Linked DNA regions of Homo sapiens. The protein of the gene in region 7 purifies or fractionates together with the protein of the main gene of each other region. This does not show direct contact. Each region holds a gene or a part of one and is shown on either strand. Other genes may lie near its edges.

What was found.
Region 1: the proteins of RNF38 (region 7) and LMO7 purify together in Homo sapiens (affinity purification with mass spectrometry, with the first as the bait; one study listed by BioGRID). This does not show direct contact.
Region 2: the proteins of RNF38 (region 7) and KRT7 purify together in Homo sapiens (affinity purification with mass spectrometry, with the first as the bait; one study listed by BioGRID). This does not show direct contact.
Region 3: the proteins of RNF38 (region 7) and LUZP1 purify together in Homo sapiens (affinity purification with mass spectrometry, with the first as the bait; one study listed by BioGRID). This does not show direct contact.
Region 4: the proteins of RNF38 (region 7) and GGCT purify together in Homo sapiens (affinity purification with mass spectrometry, with the first as the bait; one study listed by BioGRID). This does not show direct contact.
Region 5: the proteins of RNF38 (region 7) and PARP4 purify together in Homo sapiens (affinity purification with mass spectrometry, with the first as the bait; one study listed by BioGRID). This does not show direct contact.
Region 6: the proteins of RNF38 (region 7) and UACA purify together in Homo sapiens (affinity purification with mass spectrometry, with the first as the bait; one study listed by BioGRID). This does not show direct contact.

What each region holds. Positions count from the first base shown.
Region 1 is NC_000013.11:75,642,830-75,646,329, reverse strand, and holds part of LMO7 (LIM domain only protein 7), read right to left. Parts: intron 1-3,500.
Region 2 is NC_000012.12:52,231,850-52,236,042, reverse strand, and holds the start of KRT7 (keratin, type II cytoskeletal 7), read right to left. Parts: upstream 2,801-4,193; 5' UTR 2,747-2,800; coding exon 2,423-2,746; intron 889-2,422; coding exon 677-888; intron 1-676.
Region 3 is NC_000001.11:23,086,194-23,088,856, reverse strand, and holds part of LUZP1 (leucine zipper protein 1), read left to right. Parts: 3' UTR 1-2,663.
Region 4 is NC_000007.14:30,502,030-30,506,128, reverse strand, and holds the start of GGCT (gamma-glutamylcyclotransferase), read left to right. Parts: upstream 1-1,299; 5' UTR 1,300-1,419; coding exon 1,420-1,560; intron 1,561-4,099. UniProt on the Homo sapiens protein: Catalyzes the formation of 5-oxoproline from gamma-glutamyl dipeptides and may play a significant role in glutathione homeostasis. Induces release of cytochrome c from mitochondria with resultant induction of apoptosis.
Region 5 is NC_000013.11:24,457,279-24,460,778, reverse strand, and holds part of PARP4 (protein mono-ADP-ribosyltransferase PARP4), read left to right. Parts: intron 1-642; coding exon 643-807; intron 808-1,468; coding exon 1,469-1,515; intron 1,516-1,656; coding exon 1,657-1,735; intron 1,736-3,500. UniProt on the Homo sapiens protein: Mono-ADP-ribosyltransferase that mediates mono-ADP-ribosylation of target proteins.
Region 6 is NC_000015.10:70,687,059-70,690,558, forward strand, and holds part of UACA (uveal autoantigen with coiled-coil domains and ankyrin repeats), read right to left. Parts: intron 3,454-3,500; coding exon 3,396-3,453; intron 763-3,395; coding exon 692-762; intron 589-691; coding exon 482-588; intron 1-481. UniProt on the Homo sapiens protein: Regulates APAF1 expression and plays an important role in the regulation of stress-induced apoptosis. Promotes apoptosis by regulating three pathways, apoptosome up-regulation, LGALS3/galectin-3 down-regulation and NF-kappa-B inactivation.
Region 7 is NC_000009.12:36,393,770-36,397,269, reverse strand, and holds part of RNF38 (E3 ubiquitin-protein ligase RNF38), read left to right. Parts: intron 1-1,782; exon of another isoform or gene 1,783-1,866; intron 1,867-3,500. UniProt on the Homo sapiens protein: Acts as an E3 ubiquitin-protein ligase able to ubiquitinate p53/TP53 which promotes its relocalization to discrete foci associated with PML nuclear bodies. Exhibits preference for UBE2D2 as a E2 enzyme.

The DNA.
Region 1 (3,500 bases), on a different chromosome or scaffold from region 7:
AAGGAGTCCAGGCTACTGCAACAGCATAGGTGAAAGGTGATGGTGGATGTGGCAAGAGGTGGTCAGATTCTGGATCCATTTGAAGATATAGCCTGTTGGATTTCTTCACAGATTGGATGTGTGGTATGATGTTAAAAAAGAACAAGAGTCAATAATGACTTCAAATTTGGAAGCCTGAGCAACTGGCTGAACAATGATGCCATTTGCTAAGATAGAAACATTGGAGAGATGAGGAGATGATTAGGAAGGGGTGGGAAAGGGGTAGTACTAAGAGTTTTGCTTAGAACCCACTGAGCGTGACATGCTTATCAGACCTACAGTGGGAAATCTCAAGTAGTTACTAAAATTTAGGGACAAGGTCAGGGTCAGGAATGTAAATATGGAAGCAATCAGCGTGGAGAAGATATATGAACTTGATAACATCTGCTAGAAAGATACTGTAGGCAAAGAAAAGAAGACATGGAAGATGAGTCCTTGGATGTTCTAACATTCACTGATGAACAATAATTAGGAGGACTGAGCACAGAAAAATTAGAAACACCAAGTGAAATGGAAGAAAAACCTAGAGGGCAATGAAGGGTTTGAGAAGGAAGTCATCACCAACTCTATCTGATGCTTTTGATAGACTGACAATATTTTCTTCATAACACAGGGTAAATTCCAAATGCATTTGATACTGGTCCAGAGGCAATACGTTTGCTTATTGTCCCCTTCTTCATGTAAAATGAAAAACATTAAAACATTAAATCTCATGAGAAAAACTAATTCCACAATGAACTTCCTTTATTTATTTAATTTTATTTATTTATTTATTTTTGAGATAGGGTCTCGCTCTGTCATACAGGCTAGAGTGCAGTGGTACAATCATAGCTCACCGCAGCCTCAAACTTCTGGGTCAAGCCAGAATGAAAGTTTATAATGAGACTGGCAATGACCTCCCTTCCTTTGAATGTTATGAAATGGTGGTATAACAAAATAACTCAGATATTTCTTTCCCTGTTCACACATCTAGATCAAATTTCAATCTAGTCAAGGAGGCAAAAAAATTTTATCAGGGTCCCAGCTTTGGTACTAACAAGCCTAAAACACTAACTAAAAAGTATCCTAATCAAAAACATGACATGTATTTTTGAAGCACTATACAATAACCATCTGTACAATTTCTGGTATGCACGAACTACAGAAATGTAGGTCACATGAGAGAAGATGATACTTTTATAAATTATAGAAGAAACTACTTAGATATCTATTTCCTATTCTAGCTCAAAGTATAACTCAATGTTATATTAAAATGTTTCCTTTTTTAACACTTTAAATGGTTTATTGAACATTAACAATCACTAACATACATTCAAATATATAAACCTAAAGTCGGCAATTGCTCAACAGTGTCCATCTGGCTGGGCATGGTGGCTCACACCTGTAATCCCAACAGGTTGGGAGGCCAAGGTGGGAGGATCGCTTGAAGCCAGGAGTTCAAGGCCAGCTTAGGAAACAAAGCGAGACCTTGTCCCTACAACAAAATTTTTAAATTATCTGGGTGTGGTGGTGTGTGCCTATAGTCTCCCAGCTGTTCCAGAGGCTGAGGCAGGAAGACAGCTTGAGCACGGGAGTTCAAGGCTGCAGTGAGCTATGATCATACCACTGCACTCCAGCCTGGGCAACAGAGCAAGACCCTGTCTCTAAAAAAGAAAAAAATATATCTGTTGGCAATTCTGTAACTTACATATATTTGATGATCATGTACTAATACGGCACTAACATCACAAGAAATAACTTGTGCTGGTGAGCGGAAGTTGTATAGGATTTGTCATGTACAAAAAATAGCTAATCTTACAGCTTTAGGTGGAACAAGGACGGAGAGCCCATTCTTTTCTGATTCTTAATTCCTTAACAATGATGAACTACCTGGCCAGCGCCACTCCCAGGCAGCAGAGTATAATGACTAAGATGGCAGGCTGTGGGCATTCGGATCCTCAGCCAGCATTTACTACTTCTAGTGTTTCCTTGAGTAAATTATTTTACCTCTCACCCCTCTTTTCCCTCATTGGAAAAGAACATCCTCAGTAAGAATAGTCCATTATAAGATATGTGGGTATAATGCACTTGCCACATGTCATGCATGTGGTAGAAATTCAAGAATACTAGCTGCTTTTATTGTCATTTTTTCAGCTTCTCTTAAAAAAAAAACACTTCACTAGCAGGTAACTCGCTATTCAAGTCAGCTCATGTAGTGTAGGGCACTGCTATATTCATAGAAAGATCTTCAGAATACTGAGTCAAAAGTCTCACTGTGACCAGTTATTACCAGTTCTGCCCTCTGAATCCATACAAAAATTTCCTAATCTCTCCTACATGACAATCCCCATTATGCTTGAAGACAGACAGAGGGTCAGGTGCTGTATACCAACATAAAAATGCACTCAAGCACCAAACTGAGCATTCTGTACCCAGTAATGAGAACCAGTCTTTGAGCATACTACTGGGGTATTTCATAATCTTTGGAAAGGCTGTTCATGGGACTGTGCTGTAATTCACCAGAGTAGAACTTGCTATTGTCCATCTCTTTAAGCAAAGCCACAGATTGAATGTGTTAAACCTCTGTTTCAAAGTTGTGCATATATGACAGCTATTATCCCTATTAAGAGCTTTGACTACATCAAACATGTTTTCAAAGATATACAACCAATAATTATTTAATACCTTCTGAAACTAAAGAGTTAAGTACAGGTATGCATAATTCCTCATTTCCTCAGGCTCTAACACATTTTTGATAGTTAACAGGCTTAAGGAGATCTGGAAACATCAATTAAATAGGCCAACCTTTTTATTGGACACAAAACATTCATTCATTCAACAAGTATTTGGGAACATTCTGTCAGGAACTCTGGGGAACAGGAACAACATAAACAACTCAATCAGCAGATGCTAACTAGAAGAACGAGTTCACCTGCAAGGTGTATTTCTTCCAAACTAAAAGGATTGGGCAAATATGTTGATGTCACTTTGCTTTTCTTAACTAGCATTCACAAAGCTAGTGTGTTTCTATAACTCAAATGCTGGTATGTTGAGAACCAGTCTTAACAGGAAGAGGGAAGGTGAAGGAGTGTTTAGTCTCAACAGCAGTCCCTCACTACCCAAAGCACTCTCGGCATCCAGAGAGAAAGAGAGCTAGAGCAATGCACCGAAAGACAAGAACCAACACAGATTGAATAAATCGGCATACTCCCTGGGGTCCAATCCAGGACACCATTCCTCTTTCTCTAAGCCTAGGAGAAGTTTTAAGGATTTGTGCTTTACAAATGGCTTAAGAAACACCAAGGTTTCAAGGCTTCTTCGCAAGGGCCAATTGTGACTTCATTGAACCTTTTGTGGCTTAAGAGGAAATAGAACCCTCCTTTTCTCAGCTTCATCCTTCCTCACTGGAGGAAACCCAATGGGTCATTTGTTACATAAATGTTTAATATCACTAATAATCTGAGAAAAAATAGGACAACATG
Region 2 (4,193 bases), on a different chromosome or scaffold from region 7:
TTTCTATTCAATGAGAAAAGAGTGCAAAAAGACCTGTCCTCAAAAGCCCCAGTCCCAGCCTTCCTGAGCCTCCTTCTGGCTCCTGCCATGACCAGACCCACCCTCAGCCTCTGCGGCCCTCGCATGGCTCACAATGACCATTTTCCCTCTCTGCTTCTTTGCTTCCCAAGTTGGCTCTGTGTCCTCTCCTAGGAGTCAGGGACCTAAAATTCAAGTCCCAGCTCTCCCAGTGACCTTTGCAGTGTGAGCTCAACCAAGTCCCTAAACTTCTCTGGTCTCTAATTCCTCACCTGAACAAAAGAGAGTTGCTCTAGAATAATCTGTGAAGGTCATACCAGTTCTGAAGCACCCCTGTCAGAAGACACTTTCTGCCCTACTCTCTCTCGGGGCCTTGGTCAGACACCCAAAGGAGACAGTGCAGGTCAGGGCTGGGCTGAGACATTTCACTGGGACTGAGTCAGGGGAAAAGACCAGAATGATTTGGAAACAGCCCCCAGGGACAAAGAGGAGAGAGGAAAGGCAGGAAATGTGTTGGTCAAGACTGGCCCCTCAGGGAGTTATTGGACTGAGCAGCTGCATGCTGATTCCTGAAGCAGGGGGACTTGCACAGGGTCAGCTCATGAGGGTCACATTGGCCCGGGGCAGGGGTCTTCGCATGTGGCACAGGGGGCATTACTTATTCTTGAAGTCCTCCACCACATCCTGCATGCTCCGCAGCTCCGCCTCCAGGCGGCCCCCATCCACCTGCAGTGCCTCAAGCTGACCCCGAAGGCCAGCAATCTGGGCCTCAAAGATGTCTGGGAGGCGGCTGCTCTTGGCCGACTTCTGCTCCTGCAGCAGCGTCCACTTGGTCTCCAGCAGCTTGTTCTGCTGCTCCAGAAACCGCACCTAGAACGGGCGAGAAGGAGGAAACTCAAGAGGAGCCAGAGCGTGCCACCCACAGCGGGATTGAGGAACATCATCTTTAGCCACTTAGCAGAGCCATGCTCCCCCTGGCTGTTTCCCTGCCTGGGGCTTCCAGCCCTCTCCCTTTGGACTCCAAATCAAGTGTCCTACAGAGTGATCCAGGAAGCAGGTCTGCCTGGTGCACGGAAGTGCCCCGTGGTTGACTCTCGACGAATGTGCTCCAGGGCCTCCTCTCCACTTCACTCCCCATCACATTACAGGTGGTGTTCTCCACCTCCCTATCTGAACAGCCACCTCTTCCTGTCAATGGATCATGAGGATGACCAGGCCCAGCCCTCCCTTCTGTCTGGGACCTCTTCTCTTCCTTCCTCAATATCCTTTCTCTCCTTCCCCTTTCTCCAGCAAGGCCTCAGGACAGTCAATCCATGGTAAAATGACCCCAGCCTGGAGCCCACAAAGGCCCTTAAGGAGTAGCCGGTATGACTGGAGGTGGGAGGCAATAGAGGCCTCTGCAAAACCAGCAGCTCAGGGCCCCAGGCCCTGGGGACCACAGAGAGTAAGACGGTGCAGCTCAACACATGGGGGAACCTGGGCCTGGAGCAGCTTGGGGAGGCCCCTATGAAATCTAAAAGACCGGTCTGGGTGAATGGCGAAGGAAAGGAGAACGTGAGGGAGGCGGGTGTGGGAGTACACTTCGTCTAAGCTGAGGAAGGGGGCCCTGGCCAGAACAGCCCAGCAGGGCCAGCCCTGAGTTCCTGGCTTTGGCAGCACTCCTCCCAAACCCACCAGTCAAGTCTGCCCTCGCCCCCTCCAGCGGCCCCATGTGTGGCGGAGGCCAACAGCCAGGAAAAATATCTCCAAAATGGACCCCTTTTTGAGGGCCCTCTCTGCCACTCCCTGCCCCCAACTGGGCTGTCTTCAAGGGCAGGTATAACCTCTCCTCCTGCCACCTAAGGGAGGCTGGAGGACCAGGCAGGTGGGGGAGGGGAGGGGCGGGAGCCCCCCCCCCTCCCCCGCCCCACCGACTGCCGCTCTAATCTCCAGCATCTGCATCCGCATCAGCATCTGAGAGAGCCTGGGTCTCCCCCTCTGGGAAGGGCGTGCCATCCAACTCCATTCCTGACTCCACACGGTCCTCTCTCAGGGAAAGGGTCCCAGAGAGAGAACTCCTGGCCTAGGCCTCTGGAACTCCTAGTCCGAGGCAAAACTGGTCCAGGTGACCAACAGGCAGCCAGCGAGGGCAGCCCTACAGGACTCAGGCCCGCACTCCGGGAGGAAAGGGAGGGGCAGCTGGGCAGCTTGCTGGAAGGGAGGGCTTGGAAACCGAGGGGATAAAATAGCCACGGGGTTCATGCGAAGGAGGAAGGACCCCCAGATCGTGTCCCCAACACTGGCGGAAAGACAGAAGGGCGGCAGTGCTCCCCAGCGCCTGGCCCGCGCGCAGGCAGGGCTAGTTAGGGCGGCTGGTGTGGTCTGGAGCGCGGCTCGAGGAGAGGCGAGGTCCAGTCCCGCTCACCTTGTCGATGAAGGAGGCAAACTTGTTGTTGAGGGTCTTGATCTGCTCGCTCTCCTCCTGGCGCACCCGCTGGAGGGAGGGGTCGGCGTCCAGCCGCAGCGGGGCCAGCAGGCTCTGGTTAATGGTGACCTCGCGGATGCCGGCGCCCACCGGGCCCCCATAGGCAGAGCGCACGGCCACGCGCGGCCGTGAGGCGCCGAGGCCGTAGAGGCTGCTGCTGCCAAGGCCGCCGGGGCGAGCGGAGCTCAGGCGCACCTGGGCGCCGCGGCCCGAGAAGGCGGCTGAGCGCGAGGTGAATACCGGGGAGCTGAAGTGGATGGACATGGTGGCTGGGCCGGGATGGACCTAGCGGCGGGCGAGGAGGAGCGCGCACTCGCTGACCTCGGGGACACTCCGCGCCTTTTATCCGCGGGAGCGGGCGGCTGGGCTTCCACAGGTAGGGGCGGGGCTGCCGCGGGCCACCTTTCTCTGCTGCCAGGCCCCTCCTGGGGCCGCCCTCCGCCCTCTGCCCGCCCGCCCCGCCGAAGCCCAGGCTTTCAGTCCAAGCAGGGATGGTCCGGAGTAGGCAGGAGCGCCATCCCTAGACGGCCGCAGAGAACAGCGGGGGACCGCAGTTCCAGCCCATTGGAAACGGACTCAGTGAGGGAAGGCTTCCCGGAGGAGGATGCTTGGAGAGGGAGTGAAGAACCTAGAGATCCCTGAGGCCCAAGCAGAGAGACCCAGTGGCAAGAGACTGGGGGAAGGGGTGGGCTGAAAAGTTCCAACCCAGGAGTCAACGCCCAGACGTCCCCATCCTCCAGGCTGCTGAAGCCAGAAAGGCATTCCTTACCGCTCTCCCTCACACCGATCCAGCTCCTCCTTGAGAGATCAGCTCACTTGTTCAGGGGTCTGACCCCTCCTGGCCCAGCTAGTTTCCCTGGCTGCGTTCCTTCCTACTTCATTTCCCATAGAAACTAGGCTGAGAGAGACACACGACCGACCGCACCTCTGGCTCCTCCCCTCCCCACTCCAGTAGGCATCGGAATCCCAGGGACCTTGGGAATGCTTACCCTGGACCCTCACCTCCCGGACCCTCCACTCATATTCCTGCCCATTTATTTTATGCGTCCCTGTACAGGAAGGGGACACTTGTGTGTATTTGTGACACTTTGTGGATGTGTGGACACTTTGTGGATGTGTGCACACGCCTGCAGGCCTCTGGGCTCTGCTGTGCTCACACCCCCAGGCATATGCACCCGCATGTCTGAGCCTGCTTACACAGATGGGGGTCTGTGCGTGCATCCTGGGCGAGGGGGCAGCTGTGGCTACACAATGGCACACATTTTCATGCCTGCCTGAGTGCGTGTGCTTCTGTTAGCACTCAACTCTCCTCCCGCTCCCTCCACCATTTTCCTGTTTAAAGGCCCTCAGCTTTCATCATCTTTCTCCCGTGAAGCCACCACCAAACAATTCCCAGCAGTTTCAAACCCAGTCAAGAGGGGTAATCCTAGTGCTGGAACCGAATACCGGACAAAGCCTGAGTGTTGGCCTCACTTCCCGGTAGGGCCAGCCATGCTTGCCACACCCTGTTCTCAGGCCTGGCTTCCGTCTGCCCTTAGCCCACCTCTAGCCCCTCCCAATAAGCTGGCCAGGTTCGTTACCTCAGACCTAAGCCCTTGGGGGAGACAAGGGTGGGGACGGAATGTCCTTCCTGCTTGGCCATTTCAGTTAAAGCACAAGGACTTCCAGTGAGGCTAAAGACTGTCACTCCTTCTCAGTGATCTTAGTGAAG
Region 3 (2,663 bases), on a different chromosome or scaffold from region 7:
TCTCAGCTCTTCCACCGTCCTGCCCCACGAAGGATCCAAGGCCAGTTAACCAGGCAAGACACAAGCCTTGGCTGGAAAACTGTGGTAGAGCCGGGCTGTGGCTCAGGTAATTTTTGCCATTTGGCCAGAGGGAATCAGAGACTACAAGCTGGACAGTCACCCAGGCCCAACCTTCCCCAATGCACGAGTCCTCTCTCTCTCCTTGTCCCTGTCCACCAAGTAGTTGGACCATTCTGGCCCCCAAACAAGGGAAGATAAAGTCCCCAGCACACAGCAGGAGTCAAAAATTCTTCTCGGCTCCTTGGTGGGTTGTTTCTGGATCCTAGGGCAGCCTCTGTCTGTGTGGTTAATGTTCTGGTTTCTCAGTCTCCTCACTATATCCACTTCACTCCTCATTTGCCCAATGGGCTCAAGTACCCCATAAGATTTACCAGCCATCAGCTCTATCTAGGGGGCTTTCATTTCTTTCCCCTTGGAGTTCTTTTCTTCAGACTTAAAGCAGAAAGGGGTCTGTGCTGCCTCTAAAGGATTATGAGACTACCCTTTAGGTTGAAGTTTGACCTGGCTCCTGGCTTACCAGTCTCCTGGAAGCAGAGCATGCAGATACTCATGCGGATACCCATTGGAATGACATCATCCCTCCCCAACCCCAGCTCTCTCTGCTCACCTTCCAAAGGCACCTGGAGGTGCAAGCCTCATGCATCTCCTTTCCTGAGCACCAGTAATGCTGCTGGCATCGCCTGCTTTCTCTCCAGTGGCTGGAGACTTCAAGCTGACTTCATTGTTTCCACCTTGGGAAAATCCCTAGGCTAAGCTGGGCCTGACCCAGCATCCTCTGCCTTCTAGGAAGTGCCCAGCAAGAGGGAAAGCAGACCCCTTTAGTCACTCCACAAGCAATAGCTCCATGAGAGGCATGGACTGTGAGACTACTCCCTCCTGTTCCTCCTTCTCCATCCCCCATGGAGGAGGCATCGCACTTTACCAAGCTGATGCATTCCTACAGAAGTGGGCCCCGGATTTCTGCAAGTCGACTATCATGATGACTTCGCTGGAGGAAAGGTGATACGTACATACGCATTGAGGGCCTCAGCTTTATATAGTTCAAAATGCAGCAAACTTTTCAGAAAGCCACGTAAATAAATTGGTTAGGTTCCTTATACCAGTCACATGGGGAAGTTGAAAAGAATTGTATATTCTTGGCAGTGCTTTTTCTTTAGCATTCTGTCAATTCAAAGAAGGGATCCTCTTTCAAAGGCTACCTTTATGAAGTAGACACTATTGCCCTCAGAATGAGAGAACATTAAACTACCAGTCTGGTAAGCTGGATTTTTTTCCCCATGGCTTTACTTCCTTGCTGTGTGACCTTGGGTGAGTCATTGTCTTCTTGGAGCCTCAGTTTCCCTGTCTGTAAAATGAGTTCTTTGAAATGGATGATCTCTAAGGGCACCAAATCTGGTATTCTAAGGTTCTCCTGTTTTCACCATCTATAATAGTATGGGATGATTTTTGCTTGTGGAAGGTATCATCCGTGTGGGTTCTTCCCTCCTGCCCTCAATTGTTTTTCTGGGCCTTGTTTTTTAGTTTCTGTATGTTTTAATCTCATGGGGATGAGCTCAGAGAAGCTCCGTGGGCCTGTTTCCCAATCTGCAAAGTGTGAAGGGATTAGATGGGATGGTCTCTGAGGCTCTTTGTGGCATCAGCCTTGCCCAGTGCCACACAGTATCTCCTGGCGTTCTAGGAGTCTAGGTATTATGGAAAGTACCCAAGTCTGTGTATCTCCTGTTCCTGTGCATCTCCTATGAATTTCCTGGCAAGAGGAAGACTCAAGACTTCCTCCAGAGGAATTTGTCTTCTCTGCCTTCACTCAGCATGGGAACCAGTGTTCATCCTGACCTTGTCTGTATCAGATTTGGCAGTGAGGAGGCTTGGGGAGCACCTACCTTACTTTCAGGGACAGGAATCTATTGCTCATACTTCTGCTTCCCAGAGTTTTGCCAATCTAAAGGCATTGTCATGTGGCCTGCCTTTCCTGTCCACATCCCCACCTCTGATGCTCAAGATGCTATTTCCAAGATCTCTTACTGCTGCTTCTCCTGGCTTACTGGCCAGAAACTAGCTCACTCAAGGCTGCCATCCTTCACTTGCAGCCTCCCTGCCATTCTCCTTCACTGGTTGGCAACCTTGAGAGTTCAAAGAAAATCAACCTCTGTGGTGGTCAACTAAAGGTATTAGGAAACTAAGTCTGTGGCTCTTCTCTGCTGATGGAAACAGAAGGGCGCCAAGCCATGCCTAAAAAGATCTCGCCAATAATTCTTGTCTTTGAGTGTTGGAGCCCTGGATTCTGGTGCTATAGCTCCTGGTGCCAAAGTCTGGATCTTTCCACATTTCAGCAGCACCAACATCTGCTGCTACTCAAAATGTCCTGTTGAAGAGGGACAGCTGTGATGCCCTTTTGCTGGGGCTGCCATCTTGAAATCTGAGTGCAATAGGATTTGCTTGTAACAGTTATTTCAGGATATTTTGTTTCTTTAATCTGCACACTTTCTAGATAGATTTTATTTTTAAGTGTCCTCAGCATTGCAGAAAATAACATTGTAATAGCAAGTAAAGGCTGGAGGCTGTTTCTCTGGGCTTCAAATGGCTGGCAAGGCTGGCTCTCAAAT
Region 4 (4,099 bases), on a different chromosome or scaffold from region 7:
GTATTTCAGTTACCCCGAAATACAGCTGCTACTAGAAAGGCGGAATACCTGTTTGTTTTCTTAAATTATCACTTTGCAGAGTAAAGTTGGTGTAATAGTCACCACCAATAGTGTGGCAAATGAAGTTATAGTTTTTTTTTTAATTTGGATTACTCTTTGGGGGGAATGGCTTTTTTATGTTTAAAGTTTCCAATCATTTTTCAGTTTGCAGTCATTGTTATTTTTGATTCTCAAATTGTTCTAATTTTGGCCAGTGGGCAACTTCAGGCTGGTTCCCATGTCCTTTTAGAAGGACCTCGTTCGTCTTGAGAGGCGTCCTGAGCTTCTGACACAAGATGTTCCAAGTTGTCCTCATTCACTCCTAGCTCCTGACCTGGCATCAGTCATTTCTCGAAGGATCACTTGGTACCTTTTAGTGGGGGGTGGTATTTAGAGATTAATAGCTGGGTGTCAAGGATAGACAATGTTCCTATGCCCTTATGTTCATTCAAAAGTTAACAATATAGGTTTTAAAAAATACACCCAGGATGTGTGTGTGTGTGGGAGGGGGTAACCAAAACACAATATAGGGGTTTCTACTGTGACCCTAACTTATATTATGATCCCGATTTTTAAAAAGAGGAAACGGAGACCAGAGGTGCCCAAAGTTACTTGGCTAGTAAATGGCAGCGTCGGGATTTAAGCCCAGGCATGTAACTTCCATGTAACAGGGAAGGGAGTCCCAAGCATTCAGAGGGGCCGCTCCAGCAGGCGACGGGTCCGTGGAAAGGGGTCAGATTGATGACCAGTGCTGGGGGTGCCGGAACCAGCAGAAAGGGTGAACGGACCCGTCCTGCCCGACTCCTCTAGGCCAGGAAGGCAGGACCCGGCGAGCTGCCGGATGAGGGAGCCGTTGATGGAGTCGCCTGGGCCGCTGTTTCGCCTCAGATCTGACCAGAACTTCCTAAGGCACAGAAAGTACCAAAGAACCACACACAAGCACCCCAGAGCGAAGAAACCAGTCACGCGCCACGACCTTCAGCCAGTGTCCATGGGACCCGACCCGCCTGTGAGGAGTGCCTGTCCACCCCTCAATCAGAGGAAGCCTTGAGCAAGGAGGGGCGGGACATCAGTAGGTCGTGTCCAATGAGGAGCCAGCGCCGGATTGCTTCAGGACAGACTATTTCTGAGTCTCGGCGGAAGGCGGAGGGAAGGCCGTGGGGATGGCCAATCAAAGGGGGCGACTCAGGTCGGTGGGGACCGGCAGCCAATCAGGAGAGCGCTCGCTCCTGACTCGACCGGCCCACGCTTCCCGCCAGTCCCCTAACCCTGAGGCTGCCGCGCGGCGGTCACTGCGCCGGGGTAGTGGGCCCCAGTGTTGCGCTCTCTGGCCGTTCCTTACACTCTGCTTCAGGCTCCAGTGCAGGGGCGTAGTGGGATATGGCCAACTCGGGCTGCAAGGACGTCACGGGTCCAGATGAGGAGAGTTTTCTGTACTTTGCCTACGGCAGCAACCTGCTGACAGAGAGGATCCACCTCCGAAACCCCTCGGCGGCGTTCTTCTGTGTGGCCCGCCTGCAGGTGAGTGCCCCCTCCCGCGCTACCCACGCCGGGGCCGGGATGCCCAGAAGGCGCTTCCTCGGGGGCACACGTGGCCGATCGGGCCAGGAATGCAGTTCTTCTTGATGAGGGTACTAGGACGCGGCTTCCGCCTCCTGGGCGGGTCCACCTCCTCCGCTGCGCCCACTGCCCGGCCCTGCCCGGGCCACGGTGCCCTCTCGGGCTGCCTGGAGCTTTCCCCCTCCTGGCCTTTGCACCGGCTGCTCGGTCTGCACCGATTTGGCCTCTCGTCCACTAACTTAACAGATTGCATACAGTTGGTACTTCTGGAGAGTCTTCTCTGACCCGTGTCTGGGAATTGGTTGCCTTCTGTTCTGTACATAACCTTTGTTACAGCACTTCTCACCTGGCATTGTGAAAATCCGTTTACCTGCCTTTCGCTCCTCATCTAAGAGGTCCTGAAAGCTGGGACCATGTCTTATTTGTAATAATGCTGTGTTCAGTTAGGTCAAGGGGCTGCATGAACTATAACCAGTGTTGGTAAATCATTGCTCTTCAGCCCAGTCCATTCATTCATTTAGTACATATTCTTCCGGCACTTAACACTAAGGGTATAAACATGATTGAGTAAAGTGGCTGTTTCGAGGAACTCTCAGTCTGTAGGACAGAGGTGCAATAGATTATGTTCAAAACCTTTTTGACAGCGTCGAATGAGACAAACATGATCTCTGCTAACATCGTGAGTTCTTAGTTGCAAGCAACAGAAACTGGCTGATTTAAGCAAAAAAAAAAAAAAAAAAAAAAAAAAGAATGTGTTGAAAGGCTATTGGAGAGCTCACAGAATGACCAGGAAGGCAGGAGTACAAAGCTGACAAAACGGACAAGCATAAAGGGAGGCACAGCAACTGTAATACAGTGGGCATCACACAACAGAACCAGCCCACGGAGCCTCTTCCACGCCACTGCTGAACTTGGTAAACGTGGATGCTGTATTGTCCACCACCCCCTGCCCTGGACACTGCCTGCCTCTGTACATCCCTGCAGTTCCTGAAACCCAAATGTGTCAGCCTCTCTGGAGTCCCTGCTGTCTTGGGCACTAGCTTCTAATTGAAAGCCCCAGAATGTCCCGATTGGCTAAGTTTTGGCCACGTACCCATGCCGTGATTTTAAGCAAAACTGAGAGAACCAGCTTCTGGCCTTTGAAGCCTCAAAAATGGGAGTCAGGCTCTGATACTCCCTATTCCCAAACTCGTAAGGTAGGGAATTTCCCAACTGTAGGAAGGGAGTCCAAATGCTTACAGTCAGGGCAAGGGGAAGAGATATTAAACAAGGGATTATTCAGTTACAGGTATATGGTCCATCTTAAAAAGGAGGCATGCAAAGTGCAATGGGGCGTATGACCAGGGTACCTGACCTAACCAGGATGCTCAGGAAAGCCCTGCCTGAAAATGTGACTTTTAAGTTGAGACCTGAATGATTGTAGAGGTGGGGAGCACACAAAACAGGGAACAGCATCTTCTGCAAAGGACCTGAAGAAAGAGGAAGCTGGATCTTTCAGTCAGTGTGGCTGGAGTTTAGTAAGGGGAATGTGGCATGAAGACTGGAGATATGTGGAAGGGCCACATCTTCCAGGACCACAGAAGCCAAATAAGACACACTGCAGAACTAAAGCACATGAAAGATAGATTTCTATCTCCAAAAGCCCATTCTGGTCACATGGAAAATAGATTTGAAGGAGGGAAGAGTGAATGTGGAGAGTTCAAGAAGTTTTTGCAGCAATTTATGCCAAAGATAATGAATGGCATCTTGAACTAGGGTGGTGGCAGGGCAGGGTGGATGGATTTGAGAACTAATTTGGAGATAACATTGTTAAAGCATAGTGATTGAGTGTGAAGAGAATACCAAAGATGACTCAGGTTTTTGGCACCAGGTAGATGCAGGTGATGTTTGCAGAGAAAAGAGGAAAATCCGGCTTGGGAGGAGAAAATTTTAAGTTCAGTTTGAACATTTTGAATTTGAAATGCTTGCTAAACAGTCAAGTGAACAGAATAATATTAGCAAACATTTATTAAGTACTTACTGTGTGCTAGGCCCTGTTCTAAGCACTTCTGAAGCTCAGAAGAGAGATCTGGTCTGGGTTTAAAGATGATCAGAATATTTGAAGCCATTGGAGGGGATGAGAATGTCTTGAGCAAATTGCCAAATGAATAGAGAAAATGGCCTAGACCATGGGTGTCCAACCTTTTGGCTTCCTTGGGCCACACTGGAAGAAGAAAAATTGTCTTGGGCCACACATAAAATACACTAAAACTAATGATAGCTGATGAGCTAAAACAAAAACAAAAACAAAAAAAAGGCCCATGCATAATTTTTGTGATGTCCGCCACCACAGGTAAGCAAAAAAGTTCTTGCATCCAAAGGGTTGGACACCCATGGCCTAGACTGAGCCTTGAGCAACTCCAACATTTAAAAATCAGGTAATGGAGGAGGAGTTGGCAAAGGGGATTGAGATCAAGGAACAGCCTGAAAATCAGGAAAGAGGCAGATCAGGAGAAGGTGG
Region 5 (3,500 bases), on a different chromosome or scaffold from region 7:
GTTTCAAGGCTACATTAAGCTGTGACTGCACCACTGCCCTCCAGCCTGGATGACGGAGCAAGATCCTATCTCTAAATAATGAATAAATAAAAATAAAAATAACATGAGAAATTACCATAGGGTAAAATAATTAAGCAAGGGCCAAGCTTAGAAAAAACTGCCCTGGTTCTACAGCTGCTGGCAAAAGTGGTGTTGGGTGCCATGGAGGTCAGGGAGGGTCTTCAAGAAAGGGCTTTGTGGAGGCCATCTGTGCAGCAGAGCCCACCCATGCAGCAGAGCCCACCCATGCAGCAGAGCCCACCCGTGCAGCAGAGCCCACCCGTGCAGCAGAGCCCACGTGTGCAGAGAGCTCACACATGAGAGCCCCCTGGGGCAGAGTCCATGAGTGCCTCTTCCCAGTTCCGCTGCCAAGGGGGCCCCTCTCCATCTGCCTGCCACGGACATCACCCTGTTCCCACCACTGGTGAATGGCTCCAGGATTCTCCGTTAGCCCCACCAATGTGTCTTTTAGGTTTTATTACTGTTTTCTGAGGAAGAATTTGGCAGGTTGTCATTCAAGTTGCTTAAGAAGTACGTGGAGTTAGCTGGCATATAATGGGTATGCTTTCAAGTTGGAAGCTAAGTCATATGTTTCTGTTTCAGGACGTTTTTACTGTAAGTGTTGGAAACTTACCCCCTAAGGCTAAGGTTCTTATAAAAATTACCTACATCACAGAACTCAGCATCCTGGGCACTGTTGGTGTCTTTTTCATGCCCGCCACCGTAGCACCCTGGCAACAGGACAAGGCTTTGAATGAAAACCTTCAGGTTTGTACGCATAAGATTTGAAGAAGCATTTTGGCAGCAGTGGAGGGGGAGTGGTGGAGGGCTGTGGAGGAATTTATGCCTGGGGAGAAAAACATGTAAAATAATCTTTTAGGCATAAAGTTAATTTTACTGACATGCATTTAGATACATTATGTGTATAAAATGAAAAGAATAAAAGTTACAGATATGATCAATAAGCATATTTTTATTCTGCTTAATCACTCAAAAAATGTTATATCTGTAGTGCAAGTTCATCATGAAGAACTAGATAAGCATAGAGAATACAAATAAGCCAAAATAAGAAAATTAAAACCATCCTTTATCCCATTGCCCAGAGTTAATGGTTAATACTTCGGTATATCCCTCCAAACTTCCTACTTTGTATGTACAGCACATGTATAAAATGTGTGTGTGTGTGTGTGTGCGTGTGTGTGTGTGTATACACACAGACATATGTAGAGTTTAAAATCTCTGTCAAAATGGTGAGTTGTATTTTAGAAGTTCCTGTCATTCCATGAGCAAACTTTCTGTGTTTCACTGCTTGAAAGTGAAACCAGCTGTCTTGCTGACAGTTGTGGCCTTGCCAAGATTACATTCACTTTAGTCTCATTGTGAAACTTAATATATGCTTAGTTATACAAATGTATTTTTCTTTTAACAGGATACAGTAGAGAAGATTTGTATAAAAGAAATAGGAACAAAGCAAAGGTTAGTACCTAAAATATAAAACCTGTCAATTCAATGGATATTGGTTTTCTGGTTTAAATTTCCATTTAGAATTGTTTGAAATAATTTCAGATAGAAATTTAAGATCGTAGACTAAGACAACTTTCTCTTCATTTTTGCTAGCTTCTCTTTGACTATGTCTATTGAGATGCCGTATGTGATTGAATTCATTTTCAGTGATACACATGAACTGAAACAAAAGGTTAGTGCATCTTTGATTTCTTAAGAGCTGTTATTTTAACACTACTTTTATCTTATCAAAGCAATGTATGCACGTGGTTGAAAAGTGAAATAATGCTGACAAAACTTCTAACAAGAAGCACTACTCCTGCCCCTGATTCTCCCCAGACCAGTTTCCAGAGACAGTGAATCATTTGGACTATTTGAGCTGTTTCTTTGATTTTGCCTCCAATTTTTAAATATTAATTTTTAATGCTTTTTCTTGATTTCGCCTGTTTCAGAAATTATCTTTTGACTTCCTGTTTTGGAAGTTGGACGTGTAGCTCTTGCCCCCTCCACCCACCTAACTCACTACTTTTCCTCTCCCCTTCATTCCAAAAGACCTGTTTCACAATAGTCAGTGATTATCATGTAAATGATGTTTACCACTGAGCCAAGAAATGTATAATATTATGATGAGTTTTTTTTGTTTGTTTTGTTTTATTTTTTGAGACAGGGTCTTGCTCTGTCACCCAGACTAGAGTACAGTGGTGCAGTCATGGCTCACTTCATCCTTGACCTCCTTGGATCAAACAACCCTCCTGCTTCAGGCTCCTGAGTAGCTAGGGCTACAGGCCTGTGCCAGCACACCTGGCTAATTAAAAAAAAAAAAAACTTGGCTGAGTGCGGTGGCTCATGCCTGTAATCCCAGCACTTTGGGAGGCTGAGGTGGGTGGATCACGAGGTCAGGAGATCGAGACCATCCTGGCTAACATGGTGAAACCTCGTCTCCACTAAAAATACAAAAAATTAGCCGGGTGTGGTGGTGGGCACCTGTGGTCCCAGCTACTCGGGAGGCTGAGGCAGGAGAATGGCGTGAACCCAGGAGGCGGAGCTTGCAGTGAGCTGAGATTGCGCCACTGCACTCCAGCCTGGGCGTCAGAGCGAGACTCCATCTCAAAAAAAAAAAAAAAAAATTGTAGAGACAGGGTCTCACCATGTTGCCCAGGCTTTTCTCAAACTCTTGGGTTCAAGGGATCCTTTTTGCTCTGGCTTCCCGAAGTGCTAGAATGACAGGTGTGAGCTACCACACCCAGCCTATTTTCCTTTTTAGAATTCTGCAGGAACTTCAGACCTTCTCTTTATCTCTGGTATTCTGAAATTTCATAACAGTATGATTTTCATTCATTGTATGTAACTGGTGGTCTTTAGTTCTGAGAAATTTTATTGTATTAAAAAAAAGTTCCTCTCTTGTGCCTTTCTGCAGTGCCTTTCTTTTTTTCTTTTTTCTTTTTTTTTTTTTTTTTTTTTTTTTTGAGACAGAGTCTTACTCTGTTTCCCAGGTTGGAGTGCAGTGGTGGGATCATGGCCCACTGCAAACTCCACCTCCTGGGTTCAAACGATTCTCATGCCTCAGCCTCCTGAGTAGCTGGAACTACAGGTGCCTGCCACCACGCCCAGCTAAATTTTCTATTTTTAGTAGAGACGGGGTTTCCCATGTTGGCCAGGCTGGTCTCAAACTCCTGACCTCAGGTGATCTGCCTGCCTTGGCCTCCCAAAGTGTTGGGATTACAGGCGTGAGCCACTACATAGTGGTGGAGGAGTCCTCAGTAGCAACAAGAGAGTGCCAGGCCCGTTGCATGGACACTTTTCACGCCCCTGCTTGTATCTCATCTGCCAACATATCATTGGCCACAGCAAGTCCTTTGGCCAACTCCAGTTTCAAGGGTGGAAATATAGCTGCTGCCTCGTGGCAGGAGGAACTTCAAAAGTCACATTGCAAAGGGGCACGCAGACAGGAGTGGAGA
Region 6 (3,500 bases), on a different chromosome or scaffold from region 7:
TGGCAGAGTAAGGAGAGAAAACACCTTGAGAAAATCTATACTGACACATGTCAAGTTCCAGAACACTCAAGAACCACTTTACTCAAAAGATTCACTAATGAAGAAGTAACTACAGATGTACTTTTTAAATTCTTCTCCTATGTATCTTACTTGCACCCATTTCATTAAAGAGTTTTTTAAGCTTAAAACACCTGGGATGTAATTCCTCTCTCCTTCAGTTCTTTGATCCAAACATAAGGCCTAATCACTGCTTTTATTCACATTAACCCTGTCATCTTCCTCTATTTCCCTCTCCTTCTTTCTTCAGCAGACTCTGAAGAAAACTGACAAGTAGATGTTAATTCCAAGGAAAAGCAAGCCAGGGAAGGGGAGAACCCACAGGAAAGAAAGGCCAAGTCAGAGAACAGAGCTGCTGCTTTGACTTGGCCTTTCCATCCCTGTGTATCCAGCTGGTATCTGGGAGCCATGATAAAAGAATTACCTGTTTTGTTTGTCTCTGGAATTAACATCCGCTCCTCTATCTATCAGCAGTTGACATATTGTTGGCCTACTCATCTGAGTAGCCAGAACAAGTGGTGTCCGCCCGTCCTAAGCAACAGGAAAAATAAAACAGCATTAAGACAACAGATCTCCCAAAATGTAGAAGTTAGAATGCATGAGTTGAAATGAGAATAAACATAAACTAACTTACTACATCTTTGGCATTCACAGAGGCCCCATGGTCACAAAGCAGCTGTATGCTAGAAGGACAATCTGCCATTGCTTTAAGGAACAAAAGAAAATGATAAATGGTGAACATCTGTTGGTAAGACACATAGTGTTTTTCTAGGTCCATATAAGGAATAAGTTTTTCAATTTCTAAATTACCAAGCTTCACGTCCTTCACTCTTAGTTTAGCATTATAAGCACAATTTTTCATCTGAAAATGGATTAGACAAGATTATAAATTGTCTACAATTTATTAGGACCAAGGAATAACGTCAACCTTGTAGAAGACAAGAACACACTACTATTCTAAGGATAAGCACAGACAATAAAAATCAAAGCTAAATTTTGTACTTACAGTATATTTTTAAACATGGCTATAACTGACTTGATCCTTGAAGTGTTGGCTCAGTTTTTTTAAAGAATCATATCCATTTTTTATAGAATAGTCACAGTAAGTAAAGTATGAATCATACAATTCATATTTCTCATAAAAGCAGAGATTGCAATGTCTACCTTTATGCAAAGTAAGGTCATTTTGCTAATAATTATAAAATCACATTATGCTTCTTTGACTAACACTATAGTTCATATTTATATTAGGAAAAATTATTGTTAAATTCATAAAGTAGGATTATGTTTACAATCCCCATGAATTTTTTAAGCCTTATGAGTTGACATACATTATAAGCACAAAAAGTACTGACAAAGTGAGCATTCTTTTTTTTATTGGTGAAATAATAGAATTAAACCAAACATAAGAAAATCAAGTAAATTTTCACTTTTCGTCTCTAATCCAGCAAATCTTTTATATAAAATGTATCATCAGCTTTAAGAAAAAGATAAACTGAACCTGAAAACATTAATTCAGGAACTGTAAAATTAGCGACCCTTTACGTCCAATTATAAATGAGAATTTAAAAATGTAAAGCATAATAAATTCCAGAGTTTACAGATTACTAGATCATGAAGAACCGCTTAAAGCCAAAAAGAGAAAACTGCAAACCACCCAGAAATCCTAGACTTTGAGCTAGATGAAGTAAATGAGTTTGTTTATATATCCTCTCCTTTGGGAGTATGTGGGAAGTAGGGGCTTTGGAGATATTTGGAAGGCCAGAGAGTTGAACTGTAGCAGAAAATGCAGTATTTTACCAAAATTTGTTCTCCTCTTCTTCTACTATAGAGTAGGTTTCGGAATATGACTAGTCACCTAGAGAGTTTATTTCTGAGCCTCCCTTGCAGATAAATATAGCCAATTGATTTTGCTCCTATCAGTAGAATATGAATGGAGAATAATCTACTACTTCCAAGTCTGAGTTCCAGACTTTGGGCATGTATTCCACTAGGCTCTCTCCTCCTTCCTGCTAGCTAGAATACGGCTACGACCACAACTCTGCTTCAACCTTGCAGTTAAGGAAGATACTCACAGGTAAGTGGAGAAACAAGATAGAAAGAATTCAGTTTTAAAATGACCATGAGTGACCTGTCAATATATATCACTCAACAATTTTTTTAATAAGCAGCTGATATTGGAGTTCTTTTGTTATAGCAACTTAGTTTCCATCCTAGCTAATGCATCTAACTAATAAGTATAAAGATTTCAATTGGTCAAGTTGTACCAGTTTTTAAAGCAGGGATAATAAAATATATGGTTAACTTACAGGGGTCATTGTGAGGCTCAAATGATAATGGAAAAATGCTTTGCAAATACAGTAATACCCTTCTATATTAAAAAAAAGAAATGCATTGTGTGAGAAATTATCATACAAATAAAATACAAAAAGCAAAATTTTTAAAAATTAAGGTATAAAATTTTGAAGGAAATTTGAAGTATAATATGTCTTCAGTGCAGACCACCTTAATCTACTGCATATATTCCATATACATGAAAAGAGAAAGTAGACTGTTTTTTTTCCTTTGGCCTTATAGTTAAATGTAGGAATATCAGACTTAGCAAGAGGTCAGGCTATCTTACATTCCAAAAATACCTAAATATATAACTTTTTTCAAAGTACTTTCTTTAAGACACCTAAAGAATAATGCAAATAAATTTAGACACACAAGTATAATAAAATCTCTAAAAATCAGTATAAATCTCTTTTAAAATATAGCACATTACAGTGATATGAAATTCAGCACTGACATCTCTAAAGGAAAACAACTACCACCATTAATTAAGAAATTATTATGTGCCAGGCACTACTTATGATTTGATTATACTTATTAATACTACTTATTGCAGTAGTATTATTAACTTCATTTTGCAAATGAGAAAAAAGAGGTTCAGACATGTTAATTAGGTAAACATAGTTTAAGGAAAGTCTTCTTCCCATTTCTCCAATTCCCAAAGACATGAAACACACACACGCACACACATTCTCTCTCTGTTTCCCTCTCTCTCTCTCTCTCACACACACACACACACAGCTTGGAGCTCCTTGTGAGCAGGATTATAGTTTATCTACCTTTGTACCTTTAGTATCTAGCAAGCTGACTGGCCTGTAAATACTGACTGAATGAATCTTTTTAAGCGGTATAATCTAATAAATCTCTAATTTGTGCAAACAGGTTTTTAATATTCTTTGTTTCTCCATGAATTATATAAATATCTATGTGTTAAAACCCTGAAATTAATTCAAATGACTAGACATTTTAACAAATATTTGTATCCAAGGGAAACCACTGCTCACCGGCATCGTGAAGTGCAGTTCTTCCCTGCAGGTCTGCATGCTCAGTGGGACAATTGTACTGTTAAAGTAAAGAAAACTTAGTAAAGTAGGAGAGTTTTATTTTAA
Region 7 (3,500 bases):
TGGTGACCAGCACCTGTAATCCGCTACTCTGGAGGCTGAAGCAGGAGAATTGCTTGAACCCAGGAGGTGAAGACTGCAGTGAGTCAGGATTGTGCGAGTCAGGATTGCGCCACTGCACTCCACCCTGGGCAACAAGAGCAAAGCTCTGTCTCAAAAAAAAAAAAACAAAACATATATATATATATATACACACACACATATATATACGTATATATACATGTGTATATACGTATATACGTATATACACACACACACACATATATAAAGCAAATTGTGACCGTTGTGTAGTGAGAGAATGATTTTTTTTTTATTCCTTTCAGTCTTTTTCATGTGTCATTTGTGTATGAGAACTGTTGAAGCTTAGAGATGAATGACTTAGAAATTTTGTCTTGGATCTCAAAGGGTAGTAACATCTCAGAGGGTCAGTTCTACCCAGTGTTTGGACCTCAGTTTTCCAGAACCAGGCTCTCGATTTTTTTTTTTAAAGAAGCTTTATTAAGTTATGTTTTATATACCATAAAATTCACTCCATTCAATTAGATTTTTTTGGTTACATTTTGAACATTTCTGTCATCCCCCAAAGATCCCTGTGCCCATCCAGGCCTGCCTTTTGCATAACTCTAAGCGTGCACAGTCCCATTCCTGTTTGCAGTGTTCTCTCCTGGACCAGCTTTGAAGAATGCCATCCGGGACTTTGAGTACCCCTGCTCCACACTGTCAAAATCCTTTCAGAGAACTCTGCTCCCAGAAAACAAAAGCCAAGGAAACAGATTTGTTTTAGGCCCAGTGATAGAACTCTTCTCAAAGGAAAGGTGACATTTAGGTCTAGTTTATTCTCAGAACAGGGAAAAAAAAAAATCCTAGCAAGGAGCACAGCATGCATCAGTAGCTCAATGATTTATTCTGCCTCAGTAGGATGGGGTGGACTTACTGGGCAACCACTGACTTCATTTAATGGTAACCTGCAGGTGAGTGCATCAGATCTCTTCCTTGATCAAAGCTTTTAGCTTGTCTCATTGCCAACCAGATTTCTAAGAAACTTGTTACACAAATCAGAAAGGCAGGCTGTTACATCATTTGCTTACAGTTTGGAAGATTATTCTTTTAATAAATAGTTGAATGCCTGCTATGTGCCATGTACTCTTCTAGGTGTTAGTGACATTGTGCTGAACAGGACATGGAGCTTATACATGTTCTCCTGAGTGTATGCTCAAGTCACCTCATTGATTTGGCTGCTCTATTTAATCTTTATAGGGAGTTCTCTGTTTTTCTTCCTAATATTCCAAGATAACTTTTTTCTTGAATTTATGAAGTCCTGTTCATATATAACCCTACCTTATGATCATAGCATTTAAATAATTTTCTCCTCCCCCAAGTAGTAGTGTTTCTGGTTGCTACTTTTTAATGGCTGCATAGTTCAAGCAAGTGTACCGTAATTTTACTTAGCAAGTATTTGTTAAACATTTAGGTTGCTTCTAGTTACCTTTTAAATTGTCGCTATTATTGTGCTGTGGTGACCATATTCATGCATATGGCTTTTCTCGTATTTTGGTATATAACCTGATAATTTGTCAGTTTAAATATTAGAGATTCAAACATGTTTTTTAAATTATTAATCTACCTAATTACTTCCAAGAGATTAACAGTTGCTATCATGGAAGTGGTGAGAATATTTGGAGTTTTGGATTTGACTTTATTTTACAGATAACCAGACTTGTAGCTAGAGGTGACACTAAGCACCTGACTCCTCATCTAATGTTTTGTTTTCGTCTTTTATATTAGGCTGTGATTTTAGTGCTTTTGACCGACCAGTTGGTATGCTGAAGAATGCTTTGTGGGCCTTCGTGAACACCTTATTTTGTAGAAGTACGTTATGTCATACTGGCTTAGAAGTCATGTACCTGTATCCTCTCTCTCACTTTTACTGGAGAAAAAAAAAAAAGGAAATGAACGAAGAAGGATGCTGTTGTCAGAAGCAATTTTAAATGTTTTGGGACAGTGTCTTGTCCTAAGTGCTAATTTTAGTGCGATAATTACTAATAATACCTGCAAGTCTCCAAGAAAAGTTAAATTGTTGGTTATGTTACCAAAACACAGAATGGCCAGATTAAACAAAGGATGTCCTAAAATAGTAGTGTTGATGCTTAAAAGGTTAAACTGTTTTCTGTAAACTTTAGTTTTGTGAAATAGGGTTTTCTTAGTTATGCTTAATGAATTAGTCATATGATTATATGGAAATAGACATTAAACATGATAAGTTTTGGGAGTTGCAGACTTAATGTGGTCTCAGGATGTTTCCTTGGCAGGACTTTTTAAATACAGGTTGCATTCTGGGAGAAAGCCAGAGTTAGCAAATCTGTAATGCTGAAAAGTTGCCAGCCTAGAGAAAAATTATATCAGTTTTCAGGAAACAAGTTTATTTTTAAGTACTAAAAATGGTTTTAAATAGGCCTGGTGGAATAGTTGATACTTACTAATCAAACTAGATTATAAAAAAGAATGTTACTTTAAAGTAGAAGGTGGTTTTGTGGGTTGAGTATGAACCTTAGAATTCGATAGACTTGAGTTCAGATTATGGTTTTGATATTTCTGAGGTATGTGACTTTAAGCAAGTCTGTTAAACCTGATGTTCAGTGTATAAAGATGGGAGAGCCCAGTTCAGTTTCTGGCATGAAGCTAGCTGTTACCAGATTGAGGCTTTAAAACCTGCTATACTGCTTAAATAAAAATGTGTTAATTTTTATATCTTTTGTAATCAAATCAGTGTAGCCAAAATTCTGGAGAAGAAACTTTTTCACTGTGGTACAATAATTTTTATTCAAGTTATATACATACACATTGTGTTTTCTGTAACAAATTACTACAAATTTATTTGTTTAAAACACAAATATTTCCTTACAATTTCCATGAATCAGGAGTCCTGGTATGGGGTTAGCTGCTGGGCCCCCAGGGTCTTACCTTGCAGGAGCTGTGATTTCTTTCTTTTCTTTTTTTTTTTGAGACAGTCTTGCTCTGTCGCCAGGCTGGAGTGCAGTGGCACGATCTTGGCTCACTGCAACCTCCACCTCCCGGATTCAAGTGATTCTCCTGCCTCAGCCTCCCAAGTAGCTGGGACTACAGGTGTGCGCCACCACGCCCAGCTAATTTTTGTATTTTTAGTAGAGATGGGGTTTCATCATGTTGGCCAGGTTGGTCTCTATCTCTTGACCTTGTGATCTGCCCGCCTCGGCCTCCCAAAGTGCTGGGATTACAGGCGTGAGCCACTGTACCCGGCCCAGAGCTGTGATTTCATCCGTGTCTCCTTCCAAGTTCACTGGTAGAATGTGGTTCTTGTGATTATAGGACTGAGGTCCCCCATTTCTTGCTGGTCGTCAACTGGTGACTGCTTTCAGCTCCTAGAAGCTGCCCTCAAGCCCCTGCCACATGGTACCTTTCGCATGCCTTCTCACAACATCTTAGTCTGAAGAATTGGCAAGAGAATCTCTTGGGAAGGACTCAGT